2 separate regions of the Homo sapiens genome follow, and region 2 is linked to region 1. Evidence: fine-mapped QTL for protein levels in blood plasma. A gene starts in region 1. The other region holds a variant in brackets. All regions are shown on one strand. Distances are between the middles of the regions.

What was found. PIP is the posterior inclusion probability: the model's chance that the variant is causal. Protein levels are from the aptamer-based SomaScan assay of Sun 2018.
Region 2: its variant is fine-mapped to the plasma level of the APOD protein (Sun 2018, PIP 0.95).

The regions. Positions count from the first base shown.
Region 1 is chr3:195,578,942-195,587,228 of GRCh38, forward strand. It overlaps APOD (apolipoprotein D), which reads right to left and starts at 4,999. Exons shown (of 5, transcript NM_001647.4): 1 at 4,937-4,999; 2 at 398-554. The coding sequence starts at 520. RefSeq lists an enhancer at 4,450-4,619.
Region 2 is chr3:195,565,208-195,573,499 of GRCh38, forward strand. APOD (apolipoprotein D) reads right to left here. Exons shown (of 5, transcript NM_001647.4): 4 at 6,070-6,158; 5 at 3,498-3,928. The coding sequence ends at 3,693. Among named protein-coding and RNA genes, the nearest start is that of APOD, 15 kb to the right of the region's middle. The variant T/C (reference allele first, on the strand shown) is at 6,814.

The DNA of each region.
Region 1 (8,287 bases):
CTCTGCCAGGGGGCTCAGCTAGAGCCACGGATGCTCCCATGACCTGCTGGCAGCAGCTGTGGGACAATCGGAGGGGCATGCTCCACGTGTCCTCAGAGGGTGCCCAGTGTGACTGACCCTGACGGCCCAGGGCGACAGCTCAGGAACGCACCCTTTATTGCTTCTGTGCTGTCTCCGACTCACCTTCCCACCTGCTCTCGTGCGTCCCGGGATCATCCCAAACCTCTCTGCCTGCAGTCTTTATCTCAGCAGATGTCTGCTTTGGGGAAACCCCAAATAAGATAAATACTTGTCCCAAGGTGTGCAGTGGAAATTAAAGCAGCATAATTACATTGAACCTTGTAGAACGCTTATTCACAGCGGAGGCAGCAAAACAAACGGGAGGTTCGCCTTTTACCTTATTCACGTCAAAATTCTCCTGCACCGGAGGATTGGGGCACTTCCCAAGATGAAATGCTTGTCCCTCTGCCGCACCGAAGAGGCCAGCCAGTGCGGAAAGCAGCAGCAGCAGCATCACCATCTTGGGGCTGGGTGGCTGGAGAAGGGACCTGGAGCTGCGGGAACGCAAAGCAGCTGGGGTTGTCATTCTGAGCCTTCTAAGGCCACACAATCATGAAGTAAGAGTGCTGTGCCCATGGTCCCCTCTGTGGGCGGTCCCTCCTCTTCTCTCCCCAGCCCATGTGAACCCTCATCCTGCAGGGGAACACCTGCCTGTCCTTGTTGCTGTGAGGCCTTCCTCAGAGCCTCTGCACCTCCACGAGGGCGCTCTCTGCCTGGTATTCTGGTTTGTTGGATTGATTTTCACCCCTGTCCCACCTAATTATGCATCTCCCAGGATGGGCACTGTGTCTAGTTCTCCTCAGAATCACCCACGGACCTCAAAGTGTCGGCTCAGTAGATACTTGTCAAATGAACAGAAACAGCGTGGAGAGGGCTATGTAAAGTGGGGGATTAAAGCCTCCAAGTGAACCACGAAAGACACGAAACCAAACCAAATGTTGCCCAACACTTAGTGTCCTCTGAGATTCTTCAGGGAGATGCCTCTCTGACACCATCCCTCCCCCTGCCCTCGTCTTGCTGGCTGTTCTACCAGCCCAAGAGTGCGCTTGGAAACCTTAACAGGGAGCGGCCTGCTGGGGGCTCCAGGGTCACCCCAGCCAGGTTCAAATTGTGACTCTGCCCCATACTAAGTATAACTGTGTCCAATTTATGCCTTAGCTTCTTTGTCTAGTAAATGGGAATAATTATCATTCCTAGCTCATGAATTTTTGTGAGAATTAAATGAGATAATATACAGAGAGTACTTAGAGGAGTGTCTGATACAGAGTAAATGCTCAATAAATGCTAGTTATTGTTATTATCAAAAGCAGAAAGATGATGGTATTTCCCAGGTTTCTTCTTTCTTTTCTTTTCTTCTTTCTTTCTTCTTTTTTTTTTTTTGACATTCTGTTGAGGGTTTTTGTTTTGTTTTGTTTTGTTTTGAGATGGAGTCTCACTCTGTCACCCAGGCTGGAGTGCAGTGGCACAATCTCGGCTCACTGCAACCTCTGTCTCCCGGGTTCAAGTGATTCTCCTGCCTCAGACTCCTGAGTAGCTGGGATTACAGGTGTCCACCACAACTCCCGGCTAATTTTGGTATTTTTAGTAGAGACAGGGTTTCACCATGTTGGCCATGCTGGTCTCAAACTCCTGACCTCAGGGGATCCACCCGCCTTGGCCTCCCAAAGTGCTGGGATTACAGGCCTGAGCCACCGCACCCGGCCTGTTGAGGGTATTTTTCATAGATGAAGTTCATTAAATCAGAGAAGGACTGTCAGCTGATGTGTAACTGTGCAACAAGCATTTCAACCCCAAGAGTCCTTTGGCAGCAGAAGCTGGCTTTGAAGCGGGGCAGCAAGGCAGGGAGACAGAGGCTGCAGGACTGTGTGCAGGTTCTGGGCATTGGAAGCTCCCCTGTTTCCTTCACTGACTCGCTGTCAATTTGCTCCTTTCCTTGTGACTCCTTGCCTGTAGCTTGCACACGAGCTATTTCCAGCTCTCTGCATTTCTCCCTGTAATGATGATGACTGATGCAATGCAAGCAAAATGTTCTCAGATCTGAGCATTTCGAAGGATGTGTCATTACAGGAATAATTATAACTGCTTTATTGTGAGTCTCTAAACCTCTAAATACCCTTTAATAATCAATAGCTTTTTTTCCCCTGGAGGTTTTGTTGCCTGGTTTTCCAAAGAACAGTTATGTAAGGAGTGGCAGCTTGCCAGCTGGGGTTGCTGCAGGGGGAGATGGTTGCTGAGGCCCCTTTGAGCAAGTCTGCCACAGGGCCACTTTCCCTGGTCTCTGAGGTTCCGTTTCTCATCGGCTCCACCACTGTATAAACAAAACCTGTCTTTTAACCTTTTGGGGGATGATGAATTTATAGAAATGCAGCCTAAACCCACACAAATTTGCATCCATTTTAAAGAGATCTTGAATTCTACTTAGTAGGCCCAAGCTGAAAGCCTGGCCCAGAGGATCAAACCTCAAAGACTGGCCACACACTATGCACATTCCACAAGGTCCCCACACTGGATAGGACCTTAGAGGTCATCTTTCTAGCTCTACTTCCAAGGTGTACAGATGGGGAAGCTGGGGCCTGGAAGGGGCAGAGAGCTGGGACTCGAGCTCCATCTCCCCCTCTCCTGTCTGCAGCACCCCGAATCTGCTTCTTCTGTGCACCGCCATAGGGCCTTTCAATAACCCCCCACCTCTGTGACCTGATGAGTCTCACCACCACATGACACTGCAACAAAAGTCAGTTCTACATCTTACTCTGACAAAATGCTCTCTTGTGAGCTGAAACAGATTCTTTACCTCAGTAGGAGGATTTCAGAACAACCCCTTTGACTGACCCTCTTCCAAAGATGCCTCTTGGTTACATTAGTTTTATTCCTGTGGTTAAAACTCCTTGTGATGCCAGGTGCGGTGGCTCAAGCCTGTAATCCCATGGGAGGCCGAGGCAGGTGGAGCACCTGAGGTTGGGAGTTCAAGACCAGCCTGACCAACATGGAGAAACCCTATCTCTACTAAAAATAAAAAAATTAGCTGGGCATGGTGGTGCATGCCTGTAATCCCATGCTGCCTGTAATTACATGCATGCCTGTAATCGGGAGGCTGAGGCAGGAGAATTGCTTGAACCCGGGAGGTGGAGGTTGTGGTGAGCTGAGATTGCATCATTGCACTCCAGCCTGGGCAACAAGAGCAAAACTCCGTCTCAAAACAAGCAAACAAACAACAACAACAAAAAAACTCCTTGTGAGAGAAAGGGCGGACAGCATCCATTATAGTTTTCAATGTCCTTTCATTCTAATTTACTCATTACTTATTGAGCATGTTATTAATGTGTACTTAAGACTTTGGGTAACATATGGATTATATACGACATATATTTTTGCATCTTCTTCTGATATCAATAGGAAGATTGTTCTTATGAGGAGTTTAAATACTTTACAAAATAAGTATAATTTAAATATTATTTTTGGCCGGGCATGATGGCTAATGCCTGTAATCCCAACACTTTGGGAGGCCGAGGTGGGCAGATCACTTGAGGTTAGGAGTTTGAGACCAGCCTGGCCAACATGGCGAAACCCCGTCTCTACTAAAAATACAAAAAATTAGCCAGGTGTGGTGGCAAGTACCTGTAATCACAGCTACTCGGGAGGCTGATGCAGGATAATTGCTTGAACATGGGAGGCAGAGGTTGCAGTAAGCCAAGATCACACCATTGCACTCTAGCTTGGGCAACAGAGCAAAAACTCCATCTCAAAAAAACAAAACAAAAACAAACAAACAAAAAATACAAAAATTAGCTGGGCATGGTGGTGCAGTCCTGTAATCCCAGCTACTTGGGAGGCTGAGGCACAAGAATGGCTTGAACCTGGGAGGCGGAGGCTGTAGTGAGCCGAGATCGCGCCACTGCACTCCAGCCTGGGTGACAGAGTGAGACTCCGTCTCAAAAAAAAAAAAAAAGAAATATGATTTTTAACAGAATATGAGGTAATTAAAAAGCAATCCAACTAAGGTGACAGTGCATCCACCTTGGGCCTGGCACTAGCTGGAAATCACTGCTCCACTTGCATTAAGCTTACCCGTGGAGAAGCCCTGGTCCCAGGATTTTAAGGGTGCTATGCGCTCAGTCTCCACAGCACCTCCTCTGGAGGCGACCTCTGCTGACACTCTCTTCATACCAACGAGGTGAATTTGCCCGGGTTACTTCCTGGTAAACTACGAAGCCACAGTGTAAGCCTAGGCCTGGGGACAGGCTAGAATGTAAGCCTAGGTCTCCCACAAGCCCGCGCTCTTAGTGCCTGGGGACACAGCCCCTGACCTCAAAGATCTGCAGAACGTGAAGGACTAGATTTTGAAATTTCACCTCATAAAATAAAATAGGTTCCAATAAGTCATTAGGTCTCAAAGACTCATTTAGCCATTAAATATAACAAGACACGTATCTCCCAAACACAATATTTTATGCCATATTGTCAAATGCATTTTCTAGTCACACCATTAATTCCAGTTTCCAGATTATTTTACTGCGATGCACCGTTGGACAGCTTGCTGAGAATTCACCTAGGACGGTGTTTGTGCATGGAAACACCTCGTTGTCCAGTTTGGAGGGGTAAGCAAAAGACGCTGGGATGAGTTCACACTGGGTTTGGTTTTATCTTAGGCATGTTGCTAGTGTATCTGAACCTCAGCTTTATCACTGGAAAAATGGCTCTGATGATACCTACCTTGTACATTTGTTTGAGGAAAAATGAGAACAAGTCTAAAGCTACCGGCACAAGCTCTCAATCAGTGGTAGTTATATGTAGCTGAAATGGGGCAATGGAGAGTCTAGACTGTTTCTATTTTAGACATTATTATCATAAATGAAAAGCTTAAAACTACAGTACATACCTTTTCTTTCAAGATGAAGGCAGTTTCCAGATGCAGAATCAGCCGATTTGAGATGCCTGTCTTGGTGACTGGCCTCTCCCAAGCTATTTTATAAGCTTCTTCAGGTCTCTGATGTTTACTTTTCATGCATGCCACGCCCGCCGCCCCCATCCAGTCAGGAGGGTTGGCCTAAAAGCTTAGTCTGTATCGAAACACAAAGATGGGATGTTGTGTCCATCCTCCTCCCCCGATTTCCTTCACAGCTGCTCCCTGAAGAAGAAATGAGATATTGTTTTCGCGCGCGCGTGTGTGTGTGTGTGTGTGTGTGTGGGTATGTGTGCGAGAGAGAGAGAGAGTATGTGTGAGAGAAAGATAAAGTATATTTTCATCCAAAACATTTTTTTTTTTGCTATGTGGATTTTCTAATTTAATTTTTTTGGTCAGAATGCACTTTTAAGTTCCAGCAGGACGTGTTGCAACATGTTTTCAAACATCTGGTATTTATTTTTCATTTTTGTGTAAATGAAAAATCAACAAGCTCATTTCCTGAAGTGGAACATGGAGTTCCTGACTCCACTAATGGGAGTCAGGTAATGGCGCGAGGGTTATGAGTCAAAGCTGGCTTTCTCCAGGATCCTGGGCAGCCCCCTAACTTCTCTGAGCCACAGTCTCCTCGTTGTAAGTAGGGGCTGTCATTCTTTCTCCACCAGAGCCAGACGTGTAGGGGAGATACCAGTTCTCTAACAACTGGGGCTAAAAGTTGAGAATGCAGAAGACATCTTCTGTCGCTCTGTTCTCTGTCCCTTTTATGACCCTTGCAGCGAGAAGTTCAAGACAGTCTGTCACTGCTTGGGGGTGGGGGCCGGGGTGGTGGGGAGTGTGGACTTAAACCCAGGGGTGCTTTTGGTCCAGCCTTATCTCTCCTGGTGGAATGAACAACTTTGACTCTTGTGAGTGAGATTCTATGTCTTTGTGATAGGCAGGAGGTATGTTTAGAGACATTTAGATAAGGCAGTGCCTTCGTAGTAGACTTAGACTCCTAAATGAAATTCATTCTAAAATATGTAAGCAACAGAGATACATTTACAGCACTGAGTCTATAAACATGAAAACAACAACACAGATCCGTAACATCCCAAACGTTGTGAGCGCTTTCTTTAAGATGTTCTTTGCCTTTTCAGAAACATAAGAAATTCCTACTACCACCCAGGGCCTGCCTCTCGCTGACCTCCTGTGCTGCCCTCCCCTAAGAGCTCTGTGTAGCTCCCTTCCCCACTCCAGGTCCCTGATCAGATGACACTTTTCCCTAAAAAGCTTCCTGACCTTTCAAAAATAGCACTCTTGTCACTGTCCCTTTCCCTGCTTCATTATATCTTTACCTGAAATTCTCTCCTTTATTTATACATTATCCTGCTTAGTATGTTTTCCCCAGGAGGATAGGAGCTTGAGGCGTGCCAGGAGTTTGTCTCTTTGACTCTGTGTTGTGCCCCAGTGGCTAAGCACATACTAAGTGCTCAGTAAATACTTATAAATTAAATGGATGCTATCCAAAGAACTTAATGAGTTTCTAAGATATACAAAAGGCCCCAGAGGTAATATTCACGCGATTTTGATTTCAATTGTATTTCTGGAGAAGCACTAGCCTGTATGTTTCTGTCTTCTTCACCTGTATCACATTTGCCACCAAGAATTGCCTGTCATTGAAGAAATACACAGTTAGCCTCTTTTCAGCCTATTACAAAAAATTCTCTCTCCTCTAAGCAGTTGCACAGTTTTCCACAAAGCACTGTTGCCTAAGTTTCCAAATATGTATGTTGGAGTTGGAGATATCTATGTATTTTAGCCCTCAGCACTGAAGTCGGCAACCATGGAGCTGAAGGTCCAGGTCTAGGAGTCACAGCGGGAGAAAAGCCACACGATCTTCCTAGGTCTCAGTTCATTTTTTCTGTAAATATTGGTAAGTGATATATTCCTTAGGGAAATCCTCTCTTCACATGTTTCTGGAATGTATAGCCAGTAACAAATTCTTAAGCAGCATAAAACAAATCAGACCTATCTTCTAAGCAAGTGTTTATTTTTAAGTCCCAAAATAAATACACATTTGTTCAAAACAATTAAAATAGCACCAAAATGCAGGACTCAGGAAATGTAAGCACCTCATAATCCCACACCTCAGAGATAAGCATTATTTTGTTTGTAATTATTCCTCTAGATCTTTCTATACAGATCCCTATGTAATAATAACAATATTCAATGTTCTGAAACTTTTTTTTTTTTTTGAGACCGACCTTCACTCACTCTGTCACCCAGGCTGGAGTGCAGTGGTGCAATCTTGGTTCACTGCAACCTCAGCCTCCCTGGTTCAAGTGATTCTCCTGCCTCTGCCTCCCGAGTAGCTGGGATTACAGGCGCCCGCCACCACACCCAAGTGATTTTTGTATTTTTAGTAGAGACGGAGTTTCACCATGTTGGCCAGACTGGTCTCAAACTCCTGACCTCAGGTGATCCACCCGCCTCGGCCTCCCAAAGTGTTGGGATTACAGGCATGAGCCACCGCCACTGCGCCCAGCCAAGAAACTTGTTTTTTAATGTAACAATGTATCTATCTTTCTATATCAGTACACATAGATCTACCTCATTCTTTCACCTGCTGCAAAATCTTGCTTTTACCTGAGAGCACATTTCTTTTTTTCCTTTCTTTTTTTTTTTTTGAGACAGAATCTCGCTCTCGCCCAGGCTGGAGTGGTGCAGTGGCCGGATCTCGGCTCACTGCAAACTCTGCCTCCCAGGTTCATGCCATTCTCCTGCCTCAGCCTCCTGAGTAGCTGGGACTACGGGGGCCTGCCACCATGCCCGGCTAATTTTTTTTTTTTTTTAGTAGAGACGGGGTTTCACCGTGTTATCCAGGATGGTCTCGATCTCCTGACCTCGTGATCTGCCCGCCTCGGCCTCCCAAAGTGCTGGATTACAGGCGACAGCGCATTTCTTGAAGAGACAGTCTGTGGTCTGTGGTTTTTCCGGAAAGCAGTTCTTTGTTGGGTGATGATCTTTCATCATGGAGGTGATTGCCTCAGTGGTTTCACTCTCAGACCCGCAGGGAAGATGCAGTTATTTGAATGGACTCTTTGTGGCAAGAAATAGAGAACTATCTCATCTCCTAAAAAAACATGTTTCTGGATGAAGAATTCTTTATTTCTTAATAAGTGGTTCTTTCAACTACCAGAGTCATCCTGTATGCCTTTCTAAAGTGATTTTTCTTTTGTCAGTTAGAATAAAGGGGACGCACAAATGTACTTTTCGTGTGAAAATGCAGACTGAGAGGTTTCAGTAGTGCACCTTCACTCTTTAAGACTCGGCTCAAATGTCCCCCTC
Region 2 (8,292 bases), 14 kb before region 1:
TTTTAGGGCCTCCACTGTAAGTAGCAGCCGCAAAACTATAAGAGGGGGAGAAATTACCCATAATTCCACCACGCTAACACATTAATTGCCTTCATTTCCTCTGTTCACTTTTAGTTCTTAATTTTATGCCATCATTTCATGAGGCTATAAATACAGCATAGTTAAAATGCAGCATTCTTTCACTCAACATTATATTGTGAACGCTTTTGTCTGAGGACTATTCTGGTTGCAAGGAAGATTTACTCAGTCAAGTTAAATTGTCTCAGAAAATAGTTGTGTGTACGTGCCTAATCTTAGAGAAACCAAGGACAGGCGCCTAAGCTGGCTAAGCTCCCCAGGAATTGGTGCTAGGGCAGGGAGAGCCAACAGCTACTGAAGCTGCTGTCGGGGGCCTTGGGTGGGCGGGGGGATCTCTGCTTACCCTGCGTTTCTGTTCCGCACACATCACTTCAGTAGTGCATGGCCGGTAGTGGCCACTACAAGCCACATGACCTTGCAGTACCAGAGCTTTCAATGATCCTCTTTCCAGACTGCTTAAAGTCAAACTCTTATTTGATTGTCTCAGTTTATCATTTCCATCCAGCGAGGCCATAGAAGTCAGAGGTTTCTGTTCAGCCTGTGGATTGGCTGTTGCTAGCTCAGGTGGACACATATTGGTCCAATCAGGGGTGGCTGGGGAGGTAGAGCCACATGCTTTAGATTCTAGCTCTGCAGGGCAGTGAGGCCGTGCGCTGGGACCCCCCTACCTCCCCCGGCAGTGAGTGTGGCTTCGTAGTTCTTACAACTACAAATGTTCATGAACACATGACATCACATCAAGTGGCTGTTTCATGATTTATGACCCTTCCTCTGCTGTTAGCTTTAGTTTATCGCCCCTTTCAGCTTGGGGACGGCTACAATAAAACTATGAACATTTTTGGGCATACTTCTTCCTTTTCATCTTCCAGATTATATAAAATAATCTTTAAATTCCATAGATTACATTCTCTGAGCACCTCCAGAACAGAAAACATAACCTTGCAATTTTTTCTTGTTGTCTAAAAAGGGTCTGTATTTGCTAGAGATTTCTACTGAAGTCGCTATGGGCAAAATAATAGGATGTGATACGTGGGATCTGCTTCAAAGCACTTTAGGAAAAAAGTTAGGGGGTGCTGAAAGCTGAAGCAAGATTGATGAAATCTCTAGCAAATACACTTTTTAAACAACAACAAAAAATTGCAAGGTTATGTTTTCTGTCCTGGAGGTGCTCAGAGAATGTAATCTCTCTGGAATTTAAGATGATTTTATATTTTATATATACTGCTGGAGCTGATGATGGGTGCGTGAGATTTATGATACACTTTGCCTCTGTTTTGTGGTTTATGTCCTACTTCCTTTCTCTTTCTCTCCCCTCTGGATTTTTTTGTTGTTAGTCCCCATGTTTCCTCTAGACATTTGGTACTCACATACTGCCCTGTGATTCCCCCAAATTTTTCTCAGGTTCGGTTACCCCTGACACCTGCCTCATAAATTCCTTTTCCTTCCTTACCAAAAACTCCAGTCCATTTGTCTATCTACCTATTCAGTAATTCATTCACATAAAAAAAAATGAACCTATGTGTTGGTCAAGACATGAAAAATGTTGCAAAATATAGTGACATTCATTGTTTTAGATGTTACTAGACAGCTATGAAGAGGAACGAAATCACAACTTATTTTGTAGCCTGAGATAAAAGCCAGCTCCCCAGAGCAACACTCAGGAATAACTGTCTTTCAGCAGAGGAGCCAAATGCCCTCTGGCGGGGGGCGGTGGGGCCAGTGTGTCAGAGTGTAGGGTGTGGCCGCAGGCAGAGCCCAGGAGAGGCCCTCCTCCCTCCATGCCCACCTCCTCCTCACTGCCTTTTTGCTAACGGCTTTCAGCCTTTTGGGATTTAGAATTGGAAGCTATATTCTGAGGTCGTATTTATTTAGTTAAATGAAAATTGTATATATTAAAATCCTTGGGATTTTTGTAATCATTAAAGCATCAAAGAGACTCGAGTGCTCCAGAAAATGAACATTTCATATTCATGCTAAGAAAGCAAAAATCTAATGAAATGGCTGAATTTTCTATTCATTTCCCAAAACATTAGTAAATTGTCAGTTATGTGAGCTAAGTTAAATTACAGGGCGATCATTCTGAGGTCTTTCTGGTTTTACAAGTCACAATGTTAAAAAACAAACTCAAGGAGGTTTTTTTTGTTTTTGAAATGGAGTCTCGCTCTGTCATCCATGCTGGAGTGCAGTGGCGCAATCTCGGCTCACTGCAACCTCCGCCTCCCGGGTTCAAGCGATTCTCCTGCCTCGGCCTTCTGAGTAGCTGGGACTAAAGGCGCCCGCCACCACACCTGGCTAAGTTTTGTATTTTTAGTTGAGACAGGGTTTCACCATGTTGGGCAGGCTGGTCTTGAACTCCTGACCTCAGGTGATCCACCCGCCTTGGCCTCCCAAAGTGCTGGTATTACAGGCATGAGCCACCGCGCCCGGCCACAAAGACGTTCTTGAGACCTGTTGGTCCTGGGAAATTGGAGTGCTCATAGGTGTAGCTGCACAACCCTACTGCCCACCTGTGTCTGGCAGGGGTTGGGACTTTCCTGGAGCTCCCTGGCACCCTCTGTGTGCCTCTGCCTTTGCATTCTTCACCTTGGATTATAACGGCATCTTTATTTGTTTCTCCCTCACTAGACTGTGAGCTTCTGTGGGAGGACAGGGATTCTGTATTTTTCAATGCCTGGAATGCGATTGGGCTTCCGTAAATATCAGTTGAATGAAAGACAACATATATATATGTATTTTTTTCCTTAAAAGAAACTCCCTATGTTCTTCCTCATAGATTCTCCTCTTCCTTACATAAACCCCTAGATGGGTTCATTCTTCAGCCTGGCTCTGAAGACCCGAGGAGAAAGTAAACACTTCAAAGAAACTGCCCCACAGGGACTCCGAACGCCCAAGTAATTCACCCTGAAAGCAGCATCTACTCCAGAACGGGGGCATCTGGATTCAGGTCACCCAGAATACGCCTTTGCCATCAGCTTCCCCCACTCCAGAAACAGGATTGTTACCTTTAAATGAGGACAATTCAGTGCTTGGTTTTTTTCAACATAACTGCTTAAGGATTTTTTTTTCTGTTTTTCTTTTTAGAGGCAGGGTCTTGCTCTGTTGCCCAGGCTGGAGTGCAGTGGTGCCATCATAGCTCACTGTACCCTCGAATTCTTGGGCTCAAGTCATCCTCCTGCCACCACCTCCTGAGTAGCTAGCACGGGTGTGCACCACCATACCCAGCTAATTTTAAAAACATTTTTGTAGAGATGAGGTCTTGCTATGTTGCCCAGACTGGTCTTGAACTCCCGGCCTCAGGTGATCCTCCTGCCTCAGCCTCCCAAAGTGCTGGGATTACAGGCATGAGGCACCACAACCAGCCTGTTTAAGGATTTCTAAGCATAAGCTTATAATGAAAAACCCACAATAATTAATCCAACTTGGAATCTACTGCGAGCACAGCAGGTCAGCAACAAGTTTATTTTGCAGCTAGCAAGGTAACAGGGTAGGGCATGGTTACATGTTCAGGTCAACTTCCTTTGTCGTGGTTGATTGGTTTGTCTTTATGGGGGGGGGGTAGGGGAAAGCGAAGCAGAAGTAACATGGAGTGGGTGCAGCCTCCCTGTAGAACCTGGTTACGAGAGCTTGGGGCAGTTCACCTGGTCTGTGACCGTCATTTTCTTGACATCAATGTTATTAGAAGTCAGGATATTTTTTAGAGAGTCCACTGTTTCTGGAGGGAGATTAGGGTTTCTTGCCAAGATCCAAGCAAAATCCACGTGAAAAAGTTGGATGATGCAGGTACAGGAATACACGAGGGCATAGTTCTCATAGTCGGTGGCCAGGATCCAGTACGGTGCCGATGGCATAACTGAGAACCAGAGAGAGGCAGCATTATTGGAGGGAGAGGGCAAGAGAAATCTCAGGACAACACAAGAAGGCTGGCCCAGACAACCACCCACCAAGCCCCCCACCTCTGATTTTGTTTATCAATCCAGAAACAGAAAGACCCTGGAAAGAAGTTTGGACGAAAGCCTAGACTGAGTGTTTCTGACTTACCCTTTCTAGCACTGTTGGTGCCCTGCCTGCCTGCCTGCCTCACTCACCCAGAGAGAGAGACAGAGAGAGAGAGAGAGACAGCGTTATAGTCATCACCCATCTGCACATTTCAGCTGCTCTGTGTATTCCCAGGTGGACTGAGAACTCTTAAGCCCAGAGTGATTTTGCAAAAATCTGTCTCCCACCTCTGCCAGCAGCGGCATCATGGCCCACCTGCACTCACCCAGGCTGGCACATTCTGCCTTCCTCTCGTGGTCCAGTTCCGAAGAATAAATTTACCCAGATACAATACAGAAAACTTCACATGTCTCTCCTTATTTGAAAACTTTGACAGTCTCCTATTGTTTATGGAAGAAACTTCAAGCCTTTTAATGTGGCATTCAAGGCCCTTCCTAACCTCATGCCCCTCTTCATGTACACTCCCAGGCTCTAGGCCTCTTTATTCAGGCCTTCTTCTTCTTCGTTTTTTTTTTTTTTTTTTTTTTTTTTTTTTGAGATGGAGTTTCACTCTTGTCGCCCAGGCTGGAGTGCAATGGCGCGATCTCAGCTCACTGCAACCTCCACCTCCTGGGTTCAAGCGATTCTCCTGCCTCAGCATCCTGAGTAGCTGGGATTACAGGCACACGCCACCATGCCCAGCTAATTTTTTGTATCTTTAGTAGAGACAGGGTTTCACCATGTCGGCCAGGCTGGTCTTGAACTCCTGACTTCGTGATATGCCTGTATTCAGGCCTTCTTCTATGTTCCAGTTCCCTTCACTTGGAAATCCTTTTCCATAATCTCCCATAATCCTACAAGGCCTAACGCAAACATCTAATCCTTGTTATGCATGTAATAGTTAGCTTTCACTCCAATCCCCGTCCCTGATCCCTATGGGAAAAATACTCAGTTGAGAGTTTGGAGACCTAGGTTTAGGTCCCAACTCTACTTCTAATGAGTTCAGTGATGGCCTGCGTCACTCAGCCCACCTGCACTTTAGCTCCCTTCTTGATAAAAATAACAAGAGAAACTGTGTATAAAGCCCTTTACAGTTTACAGAGCGTGTGTATCTGGTTTATTTTCACGACACTGGGCAGTTATTTCTGGCTTGTACATGTGAAGTTAGTTGTCCATATTCATAGTGTGAGAAGAACTGTTTTCTCCTCCCAGCATTCCTTTCTTGGTCTATAAAATTAGAACTTCCTCTCCTCCCCGCTCTAGGCACTTGACTGGTGTGGGGTGGAGGAGTGGCAGAGATGAGAAGTAGGAAGTGCAGGGAGTAACTTTTGTAGCTGATGACTTCAGTGTCTACCCTGCAGGTGGGAAAGGGGCTTTCAAGCACTCTTCGTGTTAGAAAGCCTCACAGTTCTGGGTTGAACTCTCTAGTGTATCTTCGTCGGAAATAAAACTAATATTTGGTGCTTTCTCTATTGCCTGTGTCCCTTCCTCAGTTAGCTCAGAACCCAGAGGCAAATGCCTGTCATTAGGTATCTCACAGGATCCCCAACAATGTGACTGGAAAGTGGCAGAAGCAGGATTCAAACTTGCCGTCACTCTTGTCATCTCTTGCTTCCTAGTTTCTGCGCCGTGCAGGTTGTTCTGCTAATATCTGCTAATGTTTCGGGCCCCAGTTTCCTTTGGGAAACAAGACTGGGTTGTGTCTTCTGCAGCCCACACCCGGTGTGCACCTACTTGTGTTTCACCTGTTGAAACGCTAGCTAGTTATAGTAAATTGCGGGGTCACGTGTCAGTATCCACACTGGGATGTGAGCTCCATAAGTACCAAGGCCAGCTCTGTCCGGCTCATCATGGCAACCCTAGTGCGTGACATGTAGTAAGTGTTTGACAGATAATTATGTGCTGAGTGATTATAGATGACACTCAGGTGTCTCAGGAATTCTCCAAGCCGGGGCGCTAGCCTTCAGTTTGCATATTTCCTGTCCCTGAATCCTCCTGGGAAAAGTGGATACTTACACCAGGAAAACTTAACTTCCAGCTTGGCAGGCTCTGTGAGGTTAACTGGGGTGGCTTCACCTTCGATTTGATTCACAGTTCCATCAGCTCTGCAGTGAGTTAAAAAAAGAAAAAATACAAAAAACGAAAAGAGAAAAGAAAAACAACTCATTGAAAGCCAATAAGCAACGAAAGGCAAGATTTGTGCCACTAAGGACCGTGGCAGCCAACACCGTGATTTCTGGTAAGAGAGGCTCTCAAAGGCAGGCTAGACCCTAGCTCCATGGCCTGGCCTTTCCCTTGTGACTGTCTCTGAGGCCAAGCAGGGGAAGAGAGCAGCGGGGTGATAAGAAGCCGCAATTGACAAGCTCCAGGATGGGACAGTATGTTAGGCCCTTGCACTTCAACACTATCTCTGACTATCTTCTATGGCCTGAAAGACCAATTCCTGCTCCCAGTCTCCAAAGAAAGGGAGAAAAGAGAATGGAAAAACAAACAAAACAACCCAACACACAAAGAAGATTCACTTTTTTTTTTTTTTGGAGATGGAGTCTTGCTCTGTCCCCCAGGCTGGAGTGCAGTGGTGCGATCTCGGCTTACTGCAACCTCTGCCTCCCCGGTTCAAGCAATTCTCCTCCCTCAGCCTCCCCAGGAGCTGAGATTACAGGCATGCACCACCACGCCTGGCTAATTTTTTGTATCTTTAGTAGAGACGGGGTTTCACCATGTTAGCCAGGCTGGTCTCAAACTCCTGACCTCAGGCAA[T/C]CTACCTGCCTCAGCCTCCCAAAGTGCTGGGATTACAGGCGTGAGCCGCCGTGCCTGGCAGATTCACTTCTTTTTAAAACGAGAAGGGCCAAAGGTACAGATGAGGATGGACTTGATCACTGAAAATAATTCAAAACAAGGAGACATAAAAGCGTTCCCCTTCTTTGGGCCTCAGTGATATCATGTGACATCGCCTGTCCCATCAAGGGGCCTGAGTCCAGAGACTCCCTCTAGTTCAGCAAGCCTCTGAGTGAGTGTGGGGGATTTCAATGTAGGCCAAGTAAAAGGAGGCAGTGAAGAAACATTTACTTTATCTCAGTGATTCTCAGGTATGCCCAGATTTCAGAGACATTAAATGTGAAGAAATGCATATCTCACAATTGATGTCACCTGACAATTAGCAGTGTCATTCCTTTCTTAGTGGCATATAACGCAGTGGTGTGTCTTAAAAGCTGGGGGCTTAGATTGGATGCAATACTTTCACCTCTTTGAATGAGCCTGCTTTCTAGATGACTCCCAATGGCCCCATGAACTTGGGAGAAGGGGAAAGGTGTGGAGATGGAGGCACCAAAGGGAGGGTGCTAAGGCATCAGGGTGCTCTTCCTAGGAAGCCAACAGAGGAGAGGATGTCTGTTTATCAATCCTCAAGGCAGAGCAGGGAGGCCAACTGAAATTAGAGCAGTCGTATGTGTTAGAAAGTCAGTAGGTTGGCCGGGCGTGGTGGCTCACGCCTGTAATCCCAGCACTTTGGGAGGCCAAGGGGGGGCGGATCACAAGGTCAGGAGATCAAGACCAGCCTGGCCAACACAGTGAAACCCCGTCTCTACTAAAATACAATTAAAAAAAAAAAAGAAAGTCAGTAGGTTAATGCTATGGTTAGTGGTGACGGATGTCCTAGAAACAGGACAATGAGCAACAGGCCAGGGATTCTGGGAACTGTGCTCTGATGTTCCCAAGTACTTTCTCTGTTTATCACCATGTAAAGCTGGAGACCGTGCCCTCCTCTCTCATCTGGATCTCAGACAGCTGGGGAAGATGGTCTGTTTCTATCTGCATACGTTAACTTAGCAACAAACCAGTCTCCTCCCAGCAGATTCTGCCCTTTTCACCGTCAATTGCATTTTGCTCTAGAACGGTTTTCAGGACACCAGTCTCTGACCATGAAGTCACAACATGTTCATGGAAAAACTGCATTTGTATTTTCAAGAGTGGAAGGTGGGTAGGAAGGAGCTCTTCCTGGGGCTCTTTTTAAGTTTATAGTTGCTTTCCAAAGCGTAGCTTTTTGGATTAATTATTGTGTTAGAAGCCCTCAGTAATAGAAATGTACACTTCTAAAGGATATCCTGTTTACATAACCTAGAGTGTGAATGTTGTGTATGTGATTCTTGCTTAATAAGAAAAGGAGCTTTCTGATAGATTAAGCTGCCCAGAGATGGGATGAACTGTCCTGGAAGGCGATGAGCTCCCAGTTCCTGGAAG